7 linked regions of the Homo sapiens genome follow. The protein of the gene in region 2 interacts with the protein of the main gene of each other region in a pairwise test. Each region holds a gene or a part of one and is shown on either strand. Other genes may lie near its edges.

Region 1 (3,500 bases), on a different chromosome or scaffold from region 2:
AAGACAGGCAAACATTAAAGTCTTTATACCCTTGAGCTACTGAAAGTTACATGGGAGGAATTAAAGAGGATTATTAGCTTTCCTGATTATTCAGCTAAAGACATAATTATGGGATTTAAAAACTGTTCATTTTTGCTCAGTGAAGAGGCAATAAGGTATTCACAGCTGAAATGCAAAGTTGGACAGCTTAAGAAACATTCAGGAAGGAGTCCAAGGTTACCCAGTTTGGTCTTGGGCTGATAATGGCACTCTAAACATTGCAGGCTGAGCAAGTCAAAAGACACCTGATGCCAAGTGACATCTCAATGAGTGGTCGGTGGTAGGATAGAAGCCTTGATGGAGTGGGCTCCACTTCATTCTATAACTTGGAGGGTAGGGGCTGTGGGCCTATTAAGCATTTCACTCTAGGCCTTCCAGAGCCTTTGTTCAGAACCATGCTGCTTATTAAGCATCATTTGCTGTCTCAGTCAACAAGTTGGAAGAGAGGAGGCAAGGAACAGGGGCCACAGTGCAGACTGTTTTCTAATCTAACCGGGGAAGCAAAGCACCTGCATAGGCAGAATATTCCCATCAGGAACCTCCCAGGCAGTTACTGGTTCTGGATAGGAGATGGTGTGAATTCTTAGCATCACTGGGGGCCTGGAGGAGGGGCAGCTTTGCCAGCATAGACAGAGTGACCTTGGACAAAGATCTGTGTGTTCAGCAAGCAAATCCTCCATGTTTTCCTAGGCAATCTTAACATCAAATAGTTCATATATTTCTGCTTTACCAATCATCAACGTACCCCAGAAATGCCAATTCGTGCACTCACTAAACCTCCCAGACAGCCTCTTTAACCCATTTGCAGCACAAAAATCCATTGTCAGACCACAGCTTCTGACTGCTACTTGGAAAATTAAGGTGGCTGTGCCTATGGAGCCAGGAATAACTGGTGTTGTTATGACTTCCTCTCTGATAGTGGAGAGTACTTGGGTGTTACAGTGAGGACATGGTTCTCTCAGCTCTCTTATATGGCCAGCATATTACAGGCAGCTTAAAAGTGGCCACCTCGGGCCAGACCAAGAAAGGGGCTGTATTAGTCTGTTTTCACGCTGCTGATAAAGACATACCCAAGGCCGGGCACAGTGGCTCACACCTGTCATCCCAGCACTTTGGGAGGCTGAGGTGGGTGGATCACCTGAGGTCAGGAGTTTGAGACCAGCCTGACCAACATGGAGAAACACCATCTCTACTAAAAAATACAAAATTAGGCCGGGCGCGGTGGCTCACGCCTGTAATCCCAGCACTTTGGGAGGCCAAGGCGGGCGGATCACGAGGTCAGGAGATCGAGACCATCCTGGCTAACACGGTGAAACCCTGTCTCTACTAAAAATACAAAAAATTAGCCGGGCGAGGTGGCGGTCGCCTGTAGTCCCAGCTACTCGGGAGGCTGAGGCAAGAGAATGGCATGAACCCCAGGGGGCGGAGCTTGCAGTGAGCCGAGATTGCGCTACTGCACTCCAGCCTGGGCGACAGCAAGACTCTGTCTCAGAAAAAAAAAAAATTAGCCAGGTGTGGTGGCTCATGCCTGTAATCCCAGCTACTCAGGAGGCTGAGGCAGGAGAGGTTGCAGTAAGCCGAGATCATGCCATTGCACTCCAGCCTGGGCAACAAGAGTGAAACTCTGTCTCACAAAAAACAACAACAACAAAAGACATACCCAAGGCTGTACAACTTACAAAAGAAAGGTTTCATTGGGCTTACAGTTCTACATGGCTGGGGAAGCCTCCCAATCATGGTGGAAGGCAAGGAAGAGCAAGTCATGTCTTATGTGGCTGGCAGCAGGCAAAGAGAGAGAGCTTGTGCAGGGGAGTTTCTCTTTTTCCATCAGATCTCATGAGACTTATTCACTATTGTGAGAACAGCATGGGAAAGACTTGCTCTCATGATTCAATTACCTCCCACCAGGTCCCTCCCACAACATGTGGGAATTCAAGATGAGACATGGGTAGGGACACAGCCAAAGCATATCAGGGGCAAACTCCCCAAGAGGAATCAGTAGGGTACAACCATGGCATGGCTGGAAACTGCTGAGCAACTTTACTCACACAGGAGAATCACAGAACAAGCATGCCTTCATGCAGAAGGTGCCAATAGTCAGCTTAACATGAGATATACTTTGGGCTGTTCTCAAAGCAGTTCAGTTTCATGAAAACCTGTATTGATTACTTATGCAGTGCTGAGTACTGTAACTGAGGTCTATCCCAGCTCATGGAGCAAAATCAATTAATTTTCCCCCACTACCTGGTGTCTTATCCATTTCCAATTTAATCAGAGATGTGTTCTGTTCTTACTATGTGTCTGGCTCTGTGGACAGAAACTGAATGAAAGTGTCTGCTCTCAGCAGGTACACGGTCCAGCGGGGAGAGACAAAGAACAATAGTACAGTGAGGGGGATGCTGTACTGGGGAGGGCACAGGTATCTTAGAAGCCCAACAAGGGAGACACTTACTATCCCCTTCATGGTATTAATAATCAACATTGATAATCCTTCAGGGGAGTTGGGGAAGGAGTTGAAGGAGGAGCAGCTGTTGACTGGGCAGAAGAGGTAGAGAAAGTACATCAGGGAGTGCAGACCCTTTGGGAAGTAGCAGCAGCTCACTGTGACACTGGTGAGAGGAGGGCAATGAGGCTGTAAGTTAGGTGGGCTAGGCCAGCCGCAAATGGCCGTGGGAGCTGTGCTCTGGAGTTGGACACTGTTCTGGAGATGGAGGGCAGCCACTGAAGACAGGGAAACTCTTGGCAGTGGTAACAGTGGCTGGGGGAGGGAGCAGGAAAAGCTCTCAAGCACTATGGATAGTGTTTGCTCAAGAGATGATGAAGGCATGAAGTGGGGCAGTAAGAATAAGGAGGCAGGAAAGGGAGAAATTGAGAAATAGTGGAAGGTAAAATCATTAGGACATGTGGAATGAAAGAGTAGGAGGAACCAAAGATGACTTTCAGGGCACAGGTATCCGGGAGATGAAGAGAAAAAGGAGATCCAAAAACTAGCACCAGGTTAGCCGAGGGAATGAAAGGTCCCACAGAGGGAGTGGCCCTCAGTGTCACACACAGCACAGAGGAACATTTCCAGAGAATGGCGCCCAGAGGACTGAGGAAGGACGGGAAGCAATGGGGTAGAACCAGTAGATGTCCACAACTACATTAAAATGTCTGGCTGAAAAGGGAGGGAGAGAGGTAGTGATGAAGTTAGGAGGACATGAAGTCAAGAAAAGAGTCTTTTGTTCTTTTAAAACAGGAGACTTTGTGTATCGTGTGTGTGTGTAACATGGAGGAAGTTTCCAGAAGAGAGAAAGGAAGAGCTCAAAAATGCAAGAGATAAATATTAGCGAGGTGTAGCTCAAGGGTCAGGGCAGCAGTGGTGAGCCCAGGAGGGAAAGTTCTCAACGGCTCTCAGTAGAGTCAAAAGTGTGGCAAGTCCCTGGGAAGCACAATCTGACAGGCGTGAGGTGCCAACCCAG
Region 2 (3,500 bases):
GCACTCTAGCCTGGGCGACAGAGTGAGACTCCATCTCAAAAAAAAAAAAAAAAAAATTCACAAGTTACACAAAGTAAACAAAAGGGTATTCCAAAAAAGTATGGAAAAGTATACAGGCTAAAAAAAGGTTTACAGAAGGGATCCCTCTGTTTCCATCTCCCAGCCAGCTCTTTTCTACCTCAGTGGTAACTAATGTTGTTAGTATCTTGTTTATTTTCCTAGACATATTTAATATTTGCAAATAAGACATAGGTAGAGTTGTAGCCTTTACAAACCCCTCCCCTCTCCTATTCTTTTTCTTTCCAGAGGTAACTAGTATGCTGAAGTTGAAGTTGGGGTTTATCATTCTGATTCTTTTATTACCTATGTATATGTCTATAAACGTCTATATATTATCATATTTTTAAATATGAGGTGGTACCATGCTGGTCTTATTATTTTAACTTGCTTTTGTTTTGAGACAGAGTCTCACTGTTTCGCCCAGGCTGGAGTGCAATGGCGCGATCTCAGCTCACTGCAACCTCCACCTCCTGGGTTCAAGCGAGTCTCCTGCCTCAGCTTTCTGAGTAGCCGGGACTGCAGGCTTGCACCACCACGCCTGGCTAAGTTTTGTATTTTTTAGCAGACACAGGGTTTCACCATATTGGCCAGGCTGGTCTCGAACTCCTGACCTTGTCATCTGCCTGCCTCGGCCTCCCAAAGTGCTGGGATTACAGGTGTGAGCCACTGCACTTGGCTGCTTTTTTTTTTTTTAATACAACCTTTAAAAATGTTTTGTGTTTTTGGTTTGTTTTGTTTTTTTGAGACGAAGTTTCACTCGTTGCCCAGGCTGGAGTGCAATGGCGTGATCTCAGCTCACTGCAACCTCCGCCTCCCGGGTTCAAGTGATTCTCCTGCCTCAGCCTCCCGAGTAGCTGGGACCACAGGCGCCCGCCACCATGCCCAGCTATTTTTTTTTTTTTTTTGTATTATTAGTAGAGACGGGGTTTCACCATGTTGGCCAGGCTGGTCTCGAACTCCTGACCTCAGGTGATCCACCCACCTCGGCCTCCCAAAGTGCTGGGATTATAGGCGTGAGCCACCGTGCCCGGCCTAAAACTGACAAACTTTTAAAATATTTGTTTCATTTAAAAATGACAATTTATTACAAGTTGGTGGAGCGTAGTGGCGCATGCCTATAATCTCAGCATTTTGGGAGGCTGAGGCAGGTGGATCACCTGAGGTCAGGAGTTTGAGACCAGCCTGGCCAACATGGCGAAACCCCATCTCTACTAAAAATACAAAACTTAGCCAGGTGTGGTGGTGGGTGCCTGTCATCCCAGCTTCTCAGGAGGCTGAGGCAAGAGAATTGCTTGAACCCTGGAGGTGGAGGTTGCAGTGAGCCGAGATTGTGCCTTTGCACTCCAACCTGGGCAGCAAAACGAGACTCCATCTCAAAAAAAAAAAATTATTACAAGTTAACATAAATAACATTATTTTGAAAAATAACTTTATTTTCCAAAACAAACAAAACTGTAGAGGAAAGTATGGACTTGTTTTACATTTTTGTAGTTCTCTTTGATGTCTAGCTTACTACAAGACAGCTGGTTCTCAGATCTGCATTCAGTTTGCAATGTCACATGTCATGTAGACTTTGGAAAACTCCACTGTATCCTCATGAGAGAATAAGAGTGAAAAAGACAAATTCATGTCTTAGAATTATGAAAACAGTTTTAATGCTTGCAGGGGTCCCAGGACCACACTTTGAGAACTGTTGTATTAGAGGAGTATTATAAGCATTAGAATAAATGTGTCAGGCACATAGTAGGTGCTCAATAAATGATGGTTGTTATCACTGTGGGTAGTTCAGGAAAAGAGATTTCGTCCTTAGAGTGTACCAGGAAGAATAAAGCGAGCCCAGAACAAGGTGGGGTGAGGTGCTAGGCAAGTATCAGAACAAGAAATCTGAAACAGGCACAGAGGCTGAAACCATGGTGCATGAACCCTGGCCTGTGAGCTCTGTTATCTGAACAGGATCTGGTGAGGTGAAGGAAACAGCTCAGAGTAGGAGAATCCTTGGTTAGCCCCGGTCCCCATGACCCACTTTCAATGAACAGGAAAAGCAGCTCAATATGAAACCCTACGGTGGGGAGGGGCTGAGGTAGGACCACCTGGGAACTCAGGAAAGAGAGCTGCTGAGCTCTTAGACCACAAGAAAGGCTGAGTAGGGAAAACTGAGTCTGGGACTCCCTCAGCCAGAGCTCTGTGCTAGGTGCTGGAGGGGAGGAGGTTCCGGTGTTGCCTTTGGGAAGCACACCATCCCATGGGGTATGGACCTGAGATATCCTGGGGAGCACAGTGAGGAGCATGGTAGGGCAAGGGGGACCAGAAGTAAACTGAGGCCTGTCCATCTGAAGTAGCCAGTGTGTAGAGGTAGGGTTTGGAGCAGGAGGGGAAAACCTAGAGAGGGCATATTCTGCTGGAGGTGTGTTCTGCTAGGGGCCGCCACTGTGGTGTGCCTGGATGGACAGAGAATGCCAGGTAGGGGACCTGGGGAGTGAGGGAAAGGTTCTGGGGAGTTAGGATTAGTCCAAGGAGGCTGGGGAAAGGGAAGATCGGGGTTCAAGTAGAGAGCCAGGTTTGACAGCCCACTCCCATTAAGCCAGTAGTTAGTTATTGAGCACCTACTAGTGTCGGGGCTGGGGGTGCACAGGCAAATCTGACATTGCCTCTGCCCCTTGAGGTACAGGAACACAAATATTTGGCTACACAATGGGAAAACTGTGTGTAAAGTGCGGTGGGTTACATAGGAGATGATTAGAGACCAAATATTGAAAGCCACCGGGGGGATGGGAAGTTTCCAATTATCTGAGAGGTTCAGTTATCCAGTCACTAGCATCAGCTAGCTCCCACCCTATGGAGCAAGGAAGGAGCTATCCATTGTGGGGCAAAGAACTGAACTGAGGACCTCTAAGGTCTTAGATCTCTCTCCCTTTTCTGGGGAAGGGGAGGCTATTAAGTGAGAGGAGAGAATGGGCCTAGCCCTTGTCCCTGATTTGTTTCAGTCCTTAACCCAAAACCTTTCCCTCCTCCCAGTTTGGCAACAATCCCTTCTCTTCCCTGGCCGGGAACTCCGACAGCTCATCCTCCCAGCCTCTGCGGACTGAGAATCGAGAGCCCCTCCCTAACCCCTGGAGCCCCTCGCCCCCCACCTCCCAGGCCCCCGGGTCCGGTGGGGAGGGCACCGGAGGATCGGGGACCAGCCAGGTGCACCCGACAGTCTCGAACCCCTTTGGGATCAATGCGGCTAGCCTGGGGTCAGGTATGTCCTAGGATGGAAGGAGCTTAGTGGGGTCACCAGGGCAGCCCCTCTGTCCCAGGACTGAATGGGGTTCATACTGCTCCAGGATTTTGAAGACAGAGGTGAGACTATCGAGGCCACAGAGGGGGCTCTGCCGTCTGGGATAGTGGCCGGGTGAGGGCTGGTTCTGGCCATGTCCTGATATCCCTAGGAGTGACCT
Region 3 (3,500 bases), on a different chromosome or scaffold from region 2:
TCTGGGTATTTACCGATTTGAAAGAGTACTTTTTGTCTTTAGAGATATTAGTCTTCTGCCTTCTTCCTTGCTTTCTAATTGCGTTGGAACTATAATTATTGAACCAAATTATATAGAGGGACAGATTGAAAGTCTCTTTGAGTTAACAAAAATAAAACCTTAAAACTGGATTTTTTTTTTCTTTTTTTTAAGACGGAGTTTCGCTCTGTCACCCAGGCTGGAGTACAGTAGTGCGATCTCAGCTCACTGCAACCTCTGCCTCCCAGGTCCAAGCGATTCTTCTGCCTCAGCCTCCTGAGTAGCTGGGATTACAGGCACTCGCCACCATGCCCGGCTAATTTGTGTATTTTTAGTAGAGACAGGATTTCAGCATGTTGGCCAGGCTAGTCTTAAACTTCTGACCTCAGGCGATCCACCCACCTTGGCCTTCCAAAGTGCTGGGATTATAGGCGTGAGCCACCACGCCCAGCCAAAACTGGATATTTTAAGGCATGTGGTAAAGTGTTACAGCTCCTCCTGTTCCACAATATGTGCTTTTTTATTCCCTTTAAGAAGCCTACGATAGGAAAAGGACAGAACAACATTGGGATGTTAATTAACAGTTATGAGAGCCTGGGAGTAAAAGAAAATCATCCCCAAAATAGTCTATGTCCTTTGGTATATTATTTTCCTAGGGCCAGCATTTAATTATTTAATTTATTCAAATTAGAGGAGTTATCTATCGAGGTTTTTCATAACATTTACTTTTCAGTGTACTTGGCAGGATGGTTCTTCTGCAGCAGAAAGGCATTGTCTAATTTTTCAATATTATAAAGAAGGCTGGAGTGAACATCCTTATACAGTAATACAACTGAATATTGTATTAAAGGATGGTGTGGTAAAAAGTCCCAGTTGTCACTGTCTGCACTGGTCCATTCACATTACTTGCCTGGGCCTGAGTTTTGTATAAAATGGGAATGCCCTCCTTGTCTACACAGTTTTGTGAGAATCAGATATTAAGTAATGGATGTGAAAGAGCCTTGAGATTGTTTGTAAAGTGCTTATCTCAATGTAAGCCTTTGGAACACCAGTTCATGTAGAACAAATATTTAGTATCTTATTTTACTGTGTGCCAGGTTATTTCCATGTTCCCGAATTCAATGTAATCCTTAACAAACTGCTTTTCTCTGTTAGATTCCAGATGAGATGATCCAGTGCGTAGTCTGTGAAGACTGGTTCCATGGAAGGGTAAGGAAAATGTTCCACCTTTTGAAACCATTGTTGTCACAAAAAGATAAAGGTTATATTTTACATTATAATTAGTCTTCTAAAAATAAATTCTAATGATATGATCAGTGTATTATTACAGTATTTATAAAATAATGGGCATTTTGGACAATTTGGCAATCACAAGAAAATTTTTGGTGTTCTATATTCACAGCATCTTGGTGCCATTCCCCCTGAGAGTGGGGATTTTCAGGAGATGGTATGCCAGGCCTGCATGAAACGTTGTTCTTTTTTGTGGGCTTATGCTGCACAATTGGCAGGTAGGTATCTTTGTGAAGTTGGTGTGCCACAAACTTGTGCTTGTGAAATTTGTATGTTCAATTCAGAATTTTTAGCAACTATTTTTAACTGGGCTCTGTGGTTATAAAATAGTATATGTTCTGGCCAGGCATGGTGGCTCACGCCTGTAATCCCAGCACTTTGGGAGGCCAACAAGACAGATGGATCACCTGAGGTCAGGAGTTCGAGACCAGCCTGGCCAACATGGCGAAACCCCATCTCTACTAAAAATATGAAAATTAGCCTGGCGTCACGGCGCTTGCCTGTAATCCCAGCTACTCCAGAGGCTGAGGCAGGAGAATCACTTGAACCCAGGAGGCAGAGGTTGCAGTGAGCCGAGATCACGTCACTGCAGTCCAGCCTGGGCAATAGAACAAGACTCCATCCTCAAAAAAAAAAAAAAAAAAAAAGAATAGTATGTGTTCTTTCTCCACAAGGTGCATAGATTTGTTGGGATACTACCAAAAACAAATTTATACTTAAATGATATGATGCAGAGTATTGATGAGACCAGAGTTAGAGAATGGAGGAGGCAGTTTTTGAATGGGATTTTGAAAGATAAATAGAACTGAAATAAGTTGTTAATTCTAACACATGGTATCAGTTGGGGAGGAGGTGGTGTCTTAGTCTGTCTGGGGTGCTAAAACAAAATACCTTAGGCTGGGTAATTTATAAACAATAGACAGATATTTCTCACAGTTCTGGAGACTGGGAAGTCCAAAATTCAGGTGCCCGCAGAGTCAGTGTTTGGTTGAGGGCCCATTCCTCATAGACAGATCCTTCTACGTGTCCGTACCTGTTAAAAGGGGCAAACAAGCTCGCTTGGGCCTCTTTTATAAGTCAGAGCCCTCGTGAATGGGATTAGTGCCTTTATAAAAGTGGACTACAGGCACACACTACCATGCCCTGCTAATTTTGTATTTTCTGTAGAGACAGTGTTTCACCATGTTGCCCAGGCTGGTCTTGAACTCCTGAGCTCAAGTGATCCACTCATCTTGGCTTCCCAGACTGCTGGGATTACAGGCATGAGCCACCATGCCCAGTCTATCTGGTGCTTTTATTATACACTAAGAAATTAAATCAAAACAACTAATTAATGAATGGTCCTGAGGCATTAACTATCTTATTGGTAATGCTTTATGTATTTCTTTATTTTTAAGGTGGCAGTTACTCATGGTATCTGCTGCTTAGGCTTCATAATTTCTTGCCTTTCTCATCTTTAGAGACCAGTTCACCATACAAACCATGAGCAGCATAGCCATACCTCTGATCTCATCCTACAGTTTAGATTTGCCTTAGAGTTCTTTTGTTTTTCTGCCTTTTTTTTTTTTTTGAGACAGAGTCTCACTGTGTTATCCAGGCTGGAGTACAGTGGTGCTATCTCGGCTCACCTCAACCTTGCCTCCTGGGTTCAAGCGATTCTTGTGACGCGGCTTCCAGAGTAGCTGGGACTACAGGCACATGCCACCACACCTGGCAAATTTTTGTATTTTTAGTAGAGACAAGGCTTTTACCATGTTGGCCAGGCTGGTCTCAAACTCCTGATGTCAAGTGATCCACCCGCCTCGGTCTCCCAAAGTGCTGGGATTACAGGCATGAGCCACCACGCCCGGCCAGTTTGCCTCAGAGTTCTTAAGTGCTGCTCCCTTTCTGTTCACACCCTTTCCAGTGATCTCTCTCACTGTCCACAGATGCTGAACCTATCTATGTGTAGTTCTCATTCATTGGGTTTTTTTGTTTTTTCAAGACGGAATCTTGCTCTGTTGCCCAGGCTGGAGTGCAGTGGCACAATCTCTGCTCACTGTAACCTATGCCTCCTGGGTTCAGGCAATTCTCCTGCCTCAGCCTCCCAAGTAGCTGGGATTACAGGCATGCACCAGCATGCCTAGCTAATTCTTCTATTTTTAGTAGAGAAGGGGTTTCACCATGTTGGCCAGGCTGGTCTCGAACTCCTG
Region 4 (3,500 bases), on a different chromosome or scaffold from region 2:
CTCCAGTAAACAGTCTGCTTCTGCCATGTGAAACAAAACCAACTCCTTCTGAGGAGCCCAAGGGGGTCAGCCAAGGGTCCCCTGTGAGGGCAGCCCCCTCAGGAGCCAGAGCCACAGGCGCCTGACCTGTAAATCACTGCAGTCCCAAGTTCATTATCCCATCCCTTTCCGTCTATTTATGCCATGACCAGTGCCTAGGGAAGGACCCAGAAATGATGTGATGTGATGATACCATAGTGCCAGCCAAAATCCTTCTTCTACCTCCCTGAACTCTCCTTTGGCCAGGTTTCTTCATCTGCTGTGCTATGGTTGTGTGAAATTGACCTTCCTTGCATTTATTCTGTCTCCCTCGCAGAAATTTTATTTATGTCCTTGCTCTTGTTCTCATCAAGCTGTCAGGAAATGACAGTGTGCATTCTCTTTTTTATTTTCTCTCCTTTAAGGCTGGCCCTGGCCCTAAATAACCCACTGTCAGCATGAGGGTGTCTACTGGCGACATTACTCTCCAAGCACAAATCCCTGGGATGGATAGTACTTTAAGCTGCTACTAGAGCAGGTGTCAAGGAATTCTCCGATGGACAAGGACACCGGCCTGTGGGGTGGGTGGGGTCGAGGAAAGGAAAGAGCCATTTCATTCAAGCCAGTCCTGCCTGTGCCCATTCTATTGGGTTTCTGGGTCCCACATTCCTCATAGAGCATGAGACTGAGCCAACATGCTCATGGCTAGTTTCCACGGGGAACCTCCATCATGGCACCTGAGCTACTGAAAATCAAAATCGCTTGATGCCAGGCTGCTGTGGCTACTGACTCAGCCCCCTGCCTCCCACCTGCCATCGAGATGGAGAGCGTTTATGTCCCCAGAACATCTGGAGGCTGAAGTCACGAGGTTGGTTAGTTTGCTCCAGAGCAGCTCTGTCTAATAGAAATGTTTATGTAATTTAAATTTTTTTTGTAGTCACATTTAAAAAAATAAAAGAAGCCACTAATTTTAATACTCTATCATATTTAACTAATATATTCAAAATATTATCATTTTACCATGTAATCAATGCAAAGCTTATTAATGAGCTATTTTGGATTCTTTTTTTGTATTAAGTCACAGAAATCCCATGCATCTGTTATATTTAATGCACATCCTAATTTGGACCAACCACTTTTCAAGCACTCTATGGCTGCATGTGGCTAGTGGCTAGTGTGTGGGACAGTGCAAACATGTGACATTTCCATCATCATAGAAAGTTTTATTAGACAGTGCTGTGCTGGAAGACCAAAAAGTTGTGGGAAGAGGAGTGACAGGTGTGAGCAGAGTGTGCTCCAAAGTTCTCTAGAATTACTGAGTTGTTGGAGCTAATTACAGCAGAAATTGGAATTACAAGGATTGGGATGTTCAAGGAGCCCAGCCCTATGTCTCAGTAGAGATTAAAATGGGCTTTTATGAAAGGCCCTGGGACCATGCATAGTCTGAATGTGTCTGTCCCCTCCAAACTCCTGTGTTGAAATCCTAATCCCCAACGTGATGGTATTAAGAGGTGGGGCATTTGGTTGGTGATTAGGTCGTGAGAGTGGAGCCTTCATGAATGGGATGAGTGCCCTTGTAAAAGAAGCCCCAGAGAGGTCACTTGCCCCTTCTACCATGTGAGGGCACAGCAAGAAGATGCCATCTCTGAACCAGGAAAAAAGCCCTCACCAGACACTGAATCTGCCGGTATCTTGATCTTTGACTTCCCATCCTCCAGAACGGTGAGAAATATGTTTCTATCATTTATAAGTCACCCAGCCTATGGGATTTTGTTATAGCAGCCCAGACGGATGAAGGCAGACCATGCCCATGTTTTGCGGTGCTGCCCCACAGCAGTGGGAAGGCCAGCAAGTATGATCATGGCTCAAGACATCTGCTGGCTAAGCTGCCTCCATCTTAGCTGTTCTGGTCTGTTCAGGGCAGGGGCTGGGAGAGAACACCAAAGTCACATACTTCTTCCAATAACAATTCTGGGTTTGAATCTAATTTGGTGAAGCAGATACAGAAACGTGATCAAATTATGTGTGCCTGTGTCTGTGTGTGCATGTGTGTTCGTGTGTGTGTTCTTGGCAGGAGAGAGGAGGGTCATGTGTGAACTCCAGAAGTACTAACCTGGCCGCCAAAATCAGCTTCTCACCAGCTGCCATCAGAGGACAGTGAAGTGGCAGACTCAAGAGGCTCATCAACATTGTGAGCCATGAAGGAAAGGCTTTGAGTCTGGAAAGAATGAGATGATGGGCACCCGGGCAGACGATCAGGTGGGAGGGAGAAGTGGTAATCAGAGGCATTCTCCAAAGACAAGAGCTGCCAACTCTACAGCAAGGATGTCACCCTGATCCCCAAATCAAGCTTAATTCAGAATCCCACGCAGGCTTTTGTGTGTGGGAAGAGTGCAATTAGCCATCTTTCCCCCTCATTCTCTGAGGTCTCCCTCATATTCTGTTCAGGGAGGCAGCATTGAGGAGCTCCTCATACATAGATTCAAAGCCCAGCTCCCTCGGTGGCTCCAGAATTTCTAGGAGTTTGAAGACTACCACCTGGTTGGAAGGGGGCTACGGGGCTTGCTTTAACGATACATTTGCATAGCAAGTTCCCTCCTCATTTTCCTATAGAGTGTTTGTTTATTTGAGACAGTTTCTAGTTAAAAATACCTCACCCAGCCTTTGGTCCCTCGTGGACTTTGAGTTAGTTGCTTAACCTTTCTGAGCCTTAGTTTCCTCACCTACAAGATGGGAATAATCTTGCCCATCTCCCATGGATTTTGTAAAGATTAAACTGGGGCTTGTCAGCATGGAGCTACCAAGGGCTAAAACTGGAATATGACACCAGGAACTTCAGGCCCCCAACCAAACGTACAAATCTCTGGATCTCTCCTTGCTGGGTCTCCCTTAACAATGATCTACAGCCCCCTCCCCACTGCCATTCACTCCATCAGTGCCATCATTTAGTCACTCAACTCTCATTTATTAAGCAACAGTTGGGTGGTGGGGACTCCAAGATGAAAGGGTACAGTCTGTCCATCTGACACAGGGTATTTCGGATCTATCTACTTGGCACATAAGTATGCACTGTGGGTGACTGGGTTGCCCACTGGTGGGCTTCCACCTTCCCCCCAATCCCCACCAACTGTGTACCAGATTTTGCCAAGGTGGAGGGGCTGAAAGATCCAGCAGGAAGAGATCCAGAGATTTGTATGTTTGGTTAGGGGCCTGGAGTTCCTGGTGTCATACTCCAGTTTTAGTCCTTCGTGGTTCCATGCTGACGTGTCCCACTTTAATCTTTACAACGTCTATGTGAGATGGGAAAGATTATTCCCATCTTGTAGGTAAGGAAACTGAGGTTCAGACAGGTTAAGAGAAATAAATAAGAGACCTGGAGCAGGGGAATAGGGACATGTTGCCCCTTTAAATCATAACCACCAAAGTCTGAAATCAGATACACAACTGGAAATTTATCTGAGCCTCAGATTCCTTATCTGTAA
Region 5 (3,500 bases), on a different chromosome or scaffold from region 2:
ATTTGGGGTTTGACATGAGAGACAAATGGGAGATAAAATCTATTTATTAGCCTAAGAAAGAGATGGCATTATATTACAGAGGAATAAACTCAAACTAGGAATTTTAAGACTTTTGTTTTCATATCTGTATGTCATTGAATATGGCCCCCTTAACTTCTCTAAGCCTGCATTTCTGTATCAATTTTTTAAAAATCCCACTCAATCTACCTGAGTAGAGTTACAAAAATATGATGAAAAAATAAATGTGAAACATTTTTAAAAACAGGCCTTATAGCTACATAGAAGTTATAATGAAAATAATGCTTCAAATTACTAGCTTTGTCACTTTGAATAATATGGTTTGTTAAAGAAGAGGTAAGTAAGGTTTTCTCCATTCTGGAGGTAGTCTTGAATCGGCAACTATGAAAAGTTTAAAATTATCAAGGTGAAATATGATTAGGAAGACACTGTAGAGAACCAGCAAGCCTATATGACATTTGTAATGAAGGGAGTGAAGGAAAGAGAGTGGGAGAAGTTTCTGGAGGTTCAAAGTTGAGAATGGGAATGCTTGGGCTTAAACAGGAAATTGGCACCAGGTTGTTTGGTAAGGCAAGGGGATTAGGCATAGAACACAGATGGTCAAGGTGGGTGGAACAACATGGGCAAAGAGAATGAATGGCATTTAGAGCTGCCTATTTTCTCACTCATTTGCCATCTTCAATGGTTCTATGCTAAATATGCTAGGGTTCTTGAGAGAATGAGAGACAGCCCTTGCCTTAATAGGGTGCACAGGTTGGATGGGGTGGGGCTGGTGTCAAATGGTGAGAAAGGAGGAGCTGAAGTCACTATAAGGGGTGATGGGGAGACTTCGAAGACAAGGGAAGAAATATAGCTCCACCTAGAGGGGGCATTTGCCTTGGAAAACCTTTGGTGCCTTCAATTTCCGACTCAAGATTTCACCCAAATTCCACAGCTGAAGTACAAGGATTTGCCTTCTTTCCCTTCATGTATATGTTTTCATTAAAGGACACTCTTCTCTTCTGGTATAAATTTTCCTGAAAAGGACATCTACAGGGAGTGCCATGTCTTAAAAATTATATTGATTCTAAATAAACTCAGTCTGAATTCTTAAGTTGTCACTTCCAATAATTTGTTTCTGCTACGTTATGTGGCAAATGTGAAATGAAAACACGAAGGAATCAGGAGTTCAATTTCCCTTCCAGAATAAACAGCATTAAAGGAACAAACAGACATAATGCTTTTGAAATAGACGTTGCGTACCATTTAGCCTTTTGTGAGCTCCACTTTCCTTTTTCTCATAAAAATGTGATCCCTTTGTCATTGGAACTGCTTAGGGCAACAATTGTACATATCTTCCTCTAACCTGTGTTGTAGTAATTAGTGTTTTAATGTTCTTACATATATATTGAGTAGATCATTAGCTGCTTGAAGACATATTTATTTGTCCTGTTTCCCTCATCACACTACCTACCATATAGTATGTCAGTCACTATGCGTAAAAGTCTGGTAGGGATAAAAATAAAATAACAGGAAGTCCTTTACTTCAATCTCCTCCTCCAAATAGAATTGTGCCTGAATGATTTCCTTCAGTATTCATTGAAAAAATATTAAAAATGTGAGTCCAGAGCTCATTAGAGAGAATCTTCCTTCAATTCTCTTCAGATCTGAGAATTTTCCTTGTGAAGGAGTTAAAGCTCAAAGAAGAGTTGTGACAATACTAAAGCATTTGGAGAGGAGAGAGGAAGGCGGGAAACTGAAATATTTGGAAATAAATGTACACATTTGGAAGACAAGAAAAAAAAAAGCAAAACAAAACATGAAAAAAGGAGTGCCCAAAGAAATTAGGAAAACATTAAGACAATAACATATCAAGGAGGTTACAGTATGAGATAATCATAAAATGTTGGGATTAGCAATCTGTGACTTTTAAAGCATCTTTTCCAGAGATGGGTGAGGGTATAATGGATTTTAATTGAGATCTCCTTTAAATACATTTCTAATAAAGAATTTCACAAGTTCACACCACGTACCAAACACAAAGTATTAGATATTGTGAAACCATAGAGATAGACACCATGTTCTATTTCTTAAACATGCTACATTGTCCAGCACAATGTAGTATTAGGCATCCAACATACGTACAATAAATATTGTTAAATTGGCTGGCCACAGGAGCAAGAAAAATTGTATTGTTGGAGTAGGACCCCGAGACGATGTGATGGACATGAGTAACTCCAGCTGCGCCTCTACATTGATGTTGGGAAACTGAGAAGAGAATGAGGTCAACATTGCAGTGATGAAAATGTTGCCTGACCCTTAGGCAGGGTCTTGAATCAAAAAAAAAAAAAAAAATGGGGGAAAAATGCCATTGAATCAGTAGAGAGGGCACTGGTGTTGAAAACATCAGCTAGGAAGGTCCAAGCTTCCAAGAATGCCAACATATGGGCAGGCATTCCTGGTACATCCGTACATAGAGAAATGTATGCCATCATAGCAAGAGGGAATTGGGCAAGACGTTCTGGGACCTGTTGGGTGGGAAATAGTGGCAACCAAATTAATGGAGAAATGAGAGAAAAGAAGGAGAAATAGGTAAATGTAAAAGCAGGAAGAAAAGGGAGCAAAGGGTTAGAGACAGAATGCTATTTGTGTTTTAAAATTATGTTTTAGCTTTTGCTAAGAGCAATTCTTAGAATTAAGAGCCCAATTATCAGTTACTATGAGTCACTTTTTTCAAGATTAATATACAGCGCTTGATTTTTTGTTACACTATGTGTGAAGTTGAAAAAAATCTAAGACTTCTATTTTTAGAAAACTGGATATGATTTTTTTCTGTTTGAGATATCACTTTATCTCAACCCACTCTGAAAAAATGGTTCAATAAATAAAGCCTAGAAAAATGAATTAAATTTTATCCCTAAAAATATCTCAAACATGAAGGAGTCATTGTATTCCTTGTCCACCCTGAAGAAATAGAGATTTGTGGTGAATGTGATCTACATAATTAAGTCCACAATATTCCCATATTTATAATACCCTCTGATAGTGTTCCATCATAGCTACCCTTTTAAGATACTGTTTTAATTTCTTATTTACTAAATGCCAAAATAGAAAGAAAAAGAGGTTTGTTATATTTTACAATCTAGAAATATTGTAATGACACCATGAAAACTATGCCGCACACTAGACTGGCTTGAAGTGGATGGAAAAATAGCCCAGTGGGTGGAAACTTGAATTGTCCATAAACATCAGAAGGAAAAACAACTTTCCACGAGGCCATGGCCCAAATTCCACTTAAGCCAATTGACTCTGGATGGAAAAAAGCAAGCCCAGCTCATAAAAAGAAGGTTCATATCTGAGTATCATCTTACTTCGCCTCCCACAGCAGTGACATGACCTTGTGCCAGAAGGAGGCAAAAACTCTTCGACTATTCATTTAGAACAGAAGCCAGAGCTAAAAACATTCCTCACCCTTATGGAGAAGCCCAACTCAACATCACTAG
Region 6 (3,500 bases), on a different chromosome or scaffold from region 2:
GCTGACTTTGTGTAGAAAGATGTCCTCTTTCATTACATCCGGAAATACTGAGGAGAGCTCAGGGATGCTTTCCCTTCCTGTCCTGTGTGGAAGCCAGGCTGGGAACCAATCACTACCCTGCAAATGATGGCTACATTCCTCAGTCATTGTGCTCTTGGCAAAATATCAGTCTGAACAAAAATGAAATAGGAAAAATGCCAGGAACCTTGGGGTATTCCTATCTTCTGAGAGCAACTGGTTTGAGAGCTCAGAAACATTGACTCTTTCTAGCCAAGGCCTATACAAAACCAGAGGCAGAATCCTATAGGATATCTGAAGGAACCCCACTCTATTGGAAAGATAAGCATAGTATGCACAGCTTTAAAGGAGGAGTTTCTATTTTTAGGACTAAAAAAAAGTCAGTGCATCTTCAGCACTATCTACTGCATTCCTGAGAAATGCCAGGGGAAAAGAGCTAACCTGGCTCACTTTAAAAAATGCCCTGGAAGATGGAGTATTACCAATCTCTTCCCCCTAGGGGAGGGCCAGAGCTGTAGCCCTGCTCTAGTTATTTAATACAATAACACTTCTTTCATACACCTAACTGAGCTGTATGTTATGAAAAAATTTTAAAAAAGCATATGGAAAACAAATGCTATCAACTTGATCTAAAACAGCATTCTTTTCTTTTTAATCTTAGCATCTCAGCCTCGCCCGTATCGCATGAATAGCACCGTAGACACGAGGTAAAGTTAACTGACTCAGGAAAGCTCTTAGGAGAGCCCATCAGCACAAAGGAATTGATTCAGGCTGCAGAAAGCAAAGGAAAGAGGCCTGGTGGGGCAAGCTGGTTCAAGAGAGGGACCATAAATGCATTTTAAAACAAAAAAAATAAAGTATCCTCATTCAAGAGACAGAGCAATGAAACAAACACCCAACCAGAGAAAACTCAAGTAGATTGTGGATAGTCGGCCTCCCACTAAGGGTAACACCTCAAGAGAGAGCTAAATCAGAACAGGTTTTGGAAAAATTTTATTGCATTTTGTTTCCATGTGGAAGCACTGACAGAATTGAAAAGTGGCAGCATGTTCCACTTACTTTTCTGAAAAATCACATGGCTAGATTAACTTTCGCCCTACCCAGGACAGGATTGAATAAACCTTAACTCCTACCCCCACCCCAAGCAAAAGCTAAAAAAGGGGGTTTCTGGCAATTGCTTAAAAAACAAATCAATGTGTGAGAATTCCCCGATGGTCAATAATCATATTTGTTATTTTTGCACTTGGAGGGCACTCCCTACCTCCTTCACCTCTATCCACCATCACCACCTCCTTCAAACAAGACTGACACAGGAAGTGCCTCTCAAATGGAAAATCTATTCTGTCCCAGTGCCACAGGCTTAGGTGTGTCTGTGGATTCTGGCCAATGGGATGGCCATATGTCAACTTTGAAAGGGTGGGGACTGTGAGGTAACCCCAGCATCATGGTCATCTCCATGCCAGGACAACAGTCTCCCAGGTTAAAATATAGATAAGACACAGGTACGTGCACATTTATGGGGGTTAACTATCAGAAAGTGAATCCACTTTGAGGTTTATAAAATGAGAAGGGGATGATGGTGGGGCTGTATGTGTTGGGCACTGGTGCCTATTGCAGTCAGAATTCACACTGCTTAATTGACATCTTGCTGGGGAAGAGAGGGAGATGGGGTGGTGAGAGAGGAAGCAGATGAAACAAAGGAAAACGTAGCTTGCCTGAAATTGTGTAATTTTTTTTCCTCTTGATTGTATAAGGCATTTTGAACTGGAAAAACGTCTTTCCTACACACTCTTCCAAATAATCACAGGGAATATAATTGCTGATTCAGAATACAAATAAGACCTCTTTCATCTTTCTCCCCACTCCCCCGCAAAATCATTCTACACACCCCAAGCCCATAAAGTACAAGGCAGGCAATTGCTTTGCGAGTTAGCAGGCAAACCGTGTCCACTTGGGGGATGAGGTCGCTGTGCCAAGGTCCCTTCTGATCCTGCCCTTCTCAGGCCTCAAGGGGTAAGCATCCATCTTCGGTGAGGTTTTATGTCCCATCGGGGAGCCCGCCACTGCCTCCTGGGCAGTGGGAGGTCAGGGCCCTCCTGGCTTTCCCATGCATCCCCCACCAGGTGTCCAGACTATTCCATCCACGCACAGCGTCATGTCTCACTCAGTTAGTAGAATGGGCACAGCGCGAGACAGCGCCCTCTACATTAGTCATGCCAGACAGACAGCAGAGAGAAACCAGAGGCCAGAGAAGTGATTTTAAAAGGAAAAGAGAGCAGCTTCGGTCACCAAAAGAAATCGAAAGGATGGTTTTTAAAAAATAAAATGTGGGGACTTTTTTTTTTCTCTGCAATGCTCAGCCATTTTACTTGAGACATAAAAAAAGTTTTAAGAGTAGTTGTTTTGCTTTTTCGATTTAAACATTCATGAGAACGGATGGGACGGTAGTGCTGTGGTGTGGACTTGTGTCTGAGTGGCCATGCCGGTCGGGGTCCTTCAGACCACATACTGGTACGGGTCTGCCTTCCCTTGGTCTGGCGTGGCAAAGGGGCTGGCCCAGCCTAGAGAGAAGGGGTGGCCAAAAACGGCTTTCATGTTCATCCATTTTGTTTTTTTAGCCCATCTTCTCTCTTCCTTTTTCAATTGTTCTATTCCCTGAAAACAAGAACAATCATACTTTCAGTCAAGCACTGCATTGCTGTGGTTTCTGGGGAGGGATGTCCGCAGCGACAGGTGAATGGAGTAAATGTTTCCTTTTTAAAGCAACAAAGCTATCTACCTAATATATCTTTCTCATAAAAAGTGTTACTAAAAAAATTTCTCCTTTTTTTGGTGGGCACTCATTCACAAGTCCCTCCAAGAAGGGAGGGAAAAAGAAGCACTATCAGCAGCGCAGAAACTGCTGCTTGTAAGTATGCCAGGCCGGGGTGTGTCGCTAAGATAAGGAGCGCGTCTCTCCAGCCCTGGCCCCTTGTTGAGCTCTGCAGAGGCACTCTTCAGAAACTCTGTGCTGGGCTGTGGATGGAGTACTATGAAGGCTTTGGCGTGAGAGGCCTCAGAGCTGTTGGGGAGCTCGCAATCATCATAACCAATGATGGCCATTAATTTGGGATAGGTTCCTAGGAAGTTTGAAGCTACCATGACCACCTTGCAGACAAAAAAAAAGTAACAAATCAAATGACTGCTCTGGCGTTGTGTGTCTCACCAGCCTGGGGGATCAAGCAGCACCCCGCTTAGTGGGCCTGGTGAGACACAAACTGAGAAGGTTGAATAGGAGTGACAGACCACGAATGAGGGGAGAAGTCACCAGAGGAGGAAGGAGGAGGGATTAGTACAGGTTAGAGGGTGGCATGGCCAGGCCAGCCAGCATGGCATGGCAAAGGTCCTCCTAGTGGCTCCTTTGGGGAGAAGCATGGCGCAGACCTATGCAGCAGCTGTCACGGAGCCAGCGCTGCTTCCCCTGCTAAGTCTCAGGAAAAAAC
Region 7 (3,500 bases), on a different chromosome or scaffold from region 2:
ATTAAGAATACAAAAACTAGCTGGGTGTGGCGGCATGTGCCTGTAGTCCCAGCTACTTGGGAGGCTGAGGCAGGAGAATCACTTGTACGCGGGAAGTGGAGGTTGCAGTGAGCCGAGATCACACCACTGTACTCCAGCCTGGCGACAGAGTGAGACTCTGTCTCAAAAAAAAAAAAAAAAAAAAAAAAAGAAATGCTATTGCTAAAAAGTAGCCAGTTAATTAGGGAGGCCACTCACGAAACGCCCATCTGCCCAAGGGGACCACTTAGAAGGTGCCACAAGAGGGCACTTCCGGGGAGAAAAAAAGAGTGACAAGAACAGGAGAGAAGGAGCAGCTAGAGAAGATCGGGTGGTGCGGAGGACAGGGCGGGGCAGGGCAGACCATACCATCCTTCAGCTTCTCGTCCTGGGGGAAGGGCCCATCTGGGAGCACATCAGCAGCGGTGAGCACTGTCCGGGAGTCCTCCAGCACCTGAGGGAATCCCGCCAGGGCTGAGTGGCTTCGCAGTGCCCATCACAGACTGCTCCCATCCCCATTTATTTAAACCCCACTTCAAGTCTTACGTGTGCGCAGTTCCCCTGTCCCTGAACACCAACCCGTTAGGGAACTCCTGTTTACCCATCAGTGCCTAGATCAAAGACTGGACCTGCCATGAGCTGCCCCCTGCCTGCACACACCTTAAAGAGCCCCTTGAGCATGACATCAAGGATCTTGTACTGCTGGTGGATGTCGTTCAGCTGTGCCAGGTTCTTCAGTGCCAACAGCTGCTCCCGCCGCTTCACCTCAAACATCTTCTTGTCTGGGCAGAATTAAGTTAAGGGGCTGGCATCAATAGCCCTGCCTGGACAATCCAGCAGTCTTGCCTCAGAAGGCTCATTCCTGACCAGCAAGTATCTGCAAGGGCCATGGACACCCAGGGCTAGAAGCCTCCAGGAAATGAACAAACTGACAAGTGCATGGACCTGCAACGCACTATTCATCCAGTTCCCATGGCGCTCCACACCCAGAAGCCTGAAACCAAGCCTCCAGACCTGGCTCCTGCCTTCCCTTTGCTGTGGTCTTCCTGCCGTCTCCACAAGCATTCTACTGTTCCAGAGCCTCCACCTCTCTGCTCGCGCTGCACCCTCTCTGCCCAGGATGCCCCTCACCCTCCTCTAGGAGTTTCTTTCCTTTCAAGGCCTGGCTCAAAAACCATCACACAGTGTTTCTCCCTGACCCCTCCTGTGCCCATCAGAGCACTGGTCACAGAGTAACATGATCATTTGTTTGGATACTTTCTCCCCCTGGGCTTATGGACACCTCAAAGCCAGGGGACTTGTTGTAATTCATCTTCGTGTCCTTGAGGCCTGGCCTGGAGCAGGTGGCCCAGTTCACCAGGGTCCAGATGGGCCAGTAATCCAGAATTCCTGAGTCTCCACCCAGGATCTTGCCCACAAGGTGCCAGGCCATGCACAGTCCTCACTGAGCCTTTGCAGTCTAGAGATGGGCCTTGTCATCTCCATTTACCATACGCGGAAGCTGAAGCTCCGGAGAGACCTGACTTGCTCAAGGTCTGGCTAGAGCACCTCACCTTTTCTCCCTGTTCCCGCCAGCTGGGCCTGCTTATCCCTGGAATCCCTGAGTAGAAGAACCTCATTTATAGACCTCTCAAAGACAGCTCATTAACTACAACCCCAAAGGATACAGATCTCCAGGCTTGGGTCCAGGGAGGTCCTCAAGGTGCCTGTGGCTCCCATCCCAGACAAAAGCAGGACAAAGAGGAAGGCCAGGAATTGAAGAAGGTCCATATCCAAACCTCTTGAGCTGGAAGAATAACCCAAAGAAAGAGAGTGAGACTCAGAGATCGGTGTTACATAAAATAGAGTGCACAGGTGAACAGCAGCTTCCCCCGACATAGTGCAGCCTCTGTATACCAAGAACCCAGCTTTGGGGAGCCCTGAAGCTGCAGCTCTTATCCCAGGGCCAGCAGGCACACAATACAGAGCCGTGGGATGCTAGGAGGTGGGGAGAAAGATAAGTGTGTGTAACACAGGAACACTTAGAGCACAGGGTCAGTGGCTAGAGCTCTAGGCTGGAGCCCTGCCCCCGCCCGTCTCTGGGACCTCGAGCAGCTTGCCCAGCCTTTCTGAGCCTCAGCCTTCTCAGCTGTAGAACAGGGATAAGGAGGTCACCTCCCTGCTGCAGGGAGGGAGGTCTGGGTGAGGCACTGTGCCTGGGGAGGAGGGGCTCGTCAACAGTATTCCTTCCACATCCCCTATCCTGGTCTCCCAGGAAAGCATCTGGTCAAGGAAGCCCAGGCAGAGAAGATATGAAACTTCTGGAGTTTTCCTCCTTCCTTGACTTTTGTCATCAGAAAGTAAGAAGGGACAAAGGGCAGGGAGGAAGGCAGGGCAGTCTCGGGGTAAGGGGGCTTGCTACTCACTCACTTTGGAACCATAGGTACTACATAGAATACCTGTTCATATTCAGGCAACATGCAACAATTATTTATTTATTTTAATTTAATTTTTTTTTTTTAAGATGGAGTTTCACTCTTGTTGCTCAGGCTGGAGTGGAATGGCGCAATCTCGGCTCACTGCAACCTCCACCTCCCGGGTTCAAGCGATTCTCCTGCCTCGGCCTCCTGAGTAGCTGGGATTACACGCATGCGCCACCATGCCCAGCTAATTCTGTATTTTCAGTAGAGACGGGGTTTCTCCATATTGGCCAGGCTGGTCTCGAACTCCCAACCTCAGGTGATCCGCCTGCCTTGTCCTCCCAAAGTGCTGGGATTCAGATGTGAGCCACCGCGCCCGGCCCTTTTTATTTATTTTTTCCTTAGTAGAGATGAGGTCTTGCTATATTGCCCAGGCTGGTCTCCAACTCCTGAGCTCAAGAGATCCTCTCGCCCCAGCCTCCCAAATACTGGGATTACAGGCGTGAGCCACTATGCCCAGCCAACACAATTATTTATTGAGCACTGTGAAGTTCACTTTCCTGGTGATTCCCAGGACATACATTGCTGCCTTCCACCCTTCCTCTTTCTCCCCTTGAAAGGATGCATCTTTTCACTTGGCTGGGGTGGTAATTCTCTTAAATGTTTTTTGTTAGTTCCTGTAATTTTTTTTTTTTTTTTTGAGACAGGGTCCTGCTCTGCTGCCCAGGCTGGAGTGCAGTGGCACAGTCATGGCTCATTGCAGCCTCCACTTCCCAGGCTCAAGCCATCCTCCCACCTCAGCCTCCTGAATAGCTGGCACTACAGGTGCATGCCGCCATGCACGGCTATTTTTTGTATTTTTCTTAGACGTGGGTTTTGCTACATTGCCCAGGCTAGTCTTGAACTCCTGGGCTCAAGTGATCCACCCATCTTGGCCTCCCAAAGTACTGGGATACAGGTGTGAGTCACTGCACCCGGCTACTATAGCTTTTTTCTCTGGTTCTAACTCTGCTGTTACGGCCTGACACTCAAATATTCTGTCTTGAGGGCCTAGAAAAACAATGTTTTCCTCTAGTATAACTT

The links.
Region 1: the proteins of UBQLN4 (region 2) and MTNR1B interact in a two-hybrid assay, tested with the Homo sapiens proteins (one large-scale study listed by BioGRID and IntAct).
Region 3: the proteins of UBQLN4 (region 2) and UBR7 interact in a two-hybrid assay, tested with the Homo sapiens proteins (one large-scale study listed by BioGRID and IntAct).
Region 4: the proteins of UBQLN4 (region 2) and RAI2 interact in binary tests that used the Homo sapiens proteins (3 or more experiments, as listed by UniProt).
Region 5: the proteins of UBQLN4 (region 2) and PTN interact in a two-hybrid assay, tested with the Homo sapiens proteins (2 studies listed by BioGRID and IntAct).
Region 6: the proteins of UBQLN4 (region 2) and ZDHHC3 interact in a two-hybrid assay, tested with the Homo sapiens proteins (one large-scale study listed by BioGRID and IntAct).
Region 7: the proteins of UBQLN4 (region 2) and CCDC134 interact in a two-hybrid assay, tested with the Homo sapiens proteins (one large-scale study listed by BioGRID and IntAct).

The regions. Positions count from the first base shown.
Region 1 is NC_000011.10:92,972,651-92,976,150, reverse strand, and holds part of MTNR1B (melatonin receptor type 1B), read right to left. Parts: intron 1-3,500.
Region 2 is NC_000001.11:156,043,799-156,047,298, reverse strand, and holds part of UBQLN4 (ubiquilin-4), read left to right. Parts: intron 1-3,075; coding exon 3,076-3,301; intron 3,302-3,500. UniProt on the Homo sapiens protein: Regulator of protein degradation that mediates the proteasomal targeting of misfolded, mislocalized or accumulated proteins.
Region 3 is NC_000014.9:93,213,756-93,217,255, forward strand, and holds part of UBR7 (putative E3 ubiquitin-protein ligase UBR7), read left to right. Parts: intron 1-1,173; coding exon 1,174-1,227; intron 1,228-1,420; coding exon 1,421-1,526; intron 1,527-3,500. UniProt on the Homo sapiens protein: E3 ubiquitin-protein ligase which is a component of the N-end rule pathway. Recognizes and binds to proteins bearing specific N-terminal residues that are destabilizing according to the N-end rule, leading to their ubiquitination and subsequent degradation.
Region 4 is NC_000023.11:17,854,799-17,858,298, forward strand, and holds part of RAI2 (retinoic acid-induced protein 2), read right to left. Parts: intron 1-3,500.
Region 5 is NC_000007.14:137,337,234-137,340,733, forward strand, and holds part of PTN (pleiotrophin isoform 1 precursor), read right to left. Parts: intron 1-3,500.
Region 6 is NC_000003.12:44,924,175-44,927,674, forward strand, and holds part of ZDHHC3 (palmitoyltransferase ZDHHC3), read right to left. Parts: intron 2,674-3,500; coding exon 2,515-2,673; 3' UTR 1-2,514. UniProt on the Homo sapiens protein: Golgi-localized palmitoyltransferase that catalyzes the addition of palmitate onto various protein substrates.
Region 7 is NC_000022.11:41,807,179-41,810,678, reverse strand, and holds part of CCDC134 (coiled-coil domain-containing protein 134 isoform 1 precursor), read right to left. Parts: intron 1,805-3,500; 5' UTR 1,789-1,804; coding exon 1,686-1,788; intron 801-1,685; coding exon 679-800; intron 473-678; coding exon 388-472; intron 1-387. UniProt on the Homo sapiens protein: Molecular adapter required to prevent protein hyperglycosylation of HSP90B1: during translation, associates with nascent HSP90B1 and the STT3A catalytic component of the OST-A complex and tethers them to a specialized translocon that forms a microenvironment for HSP90B1 folding.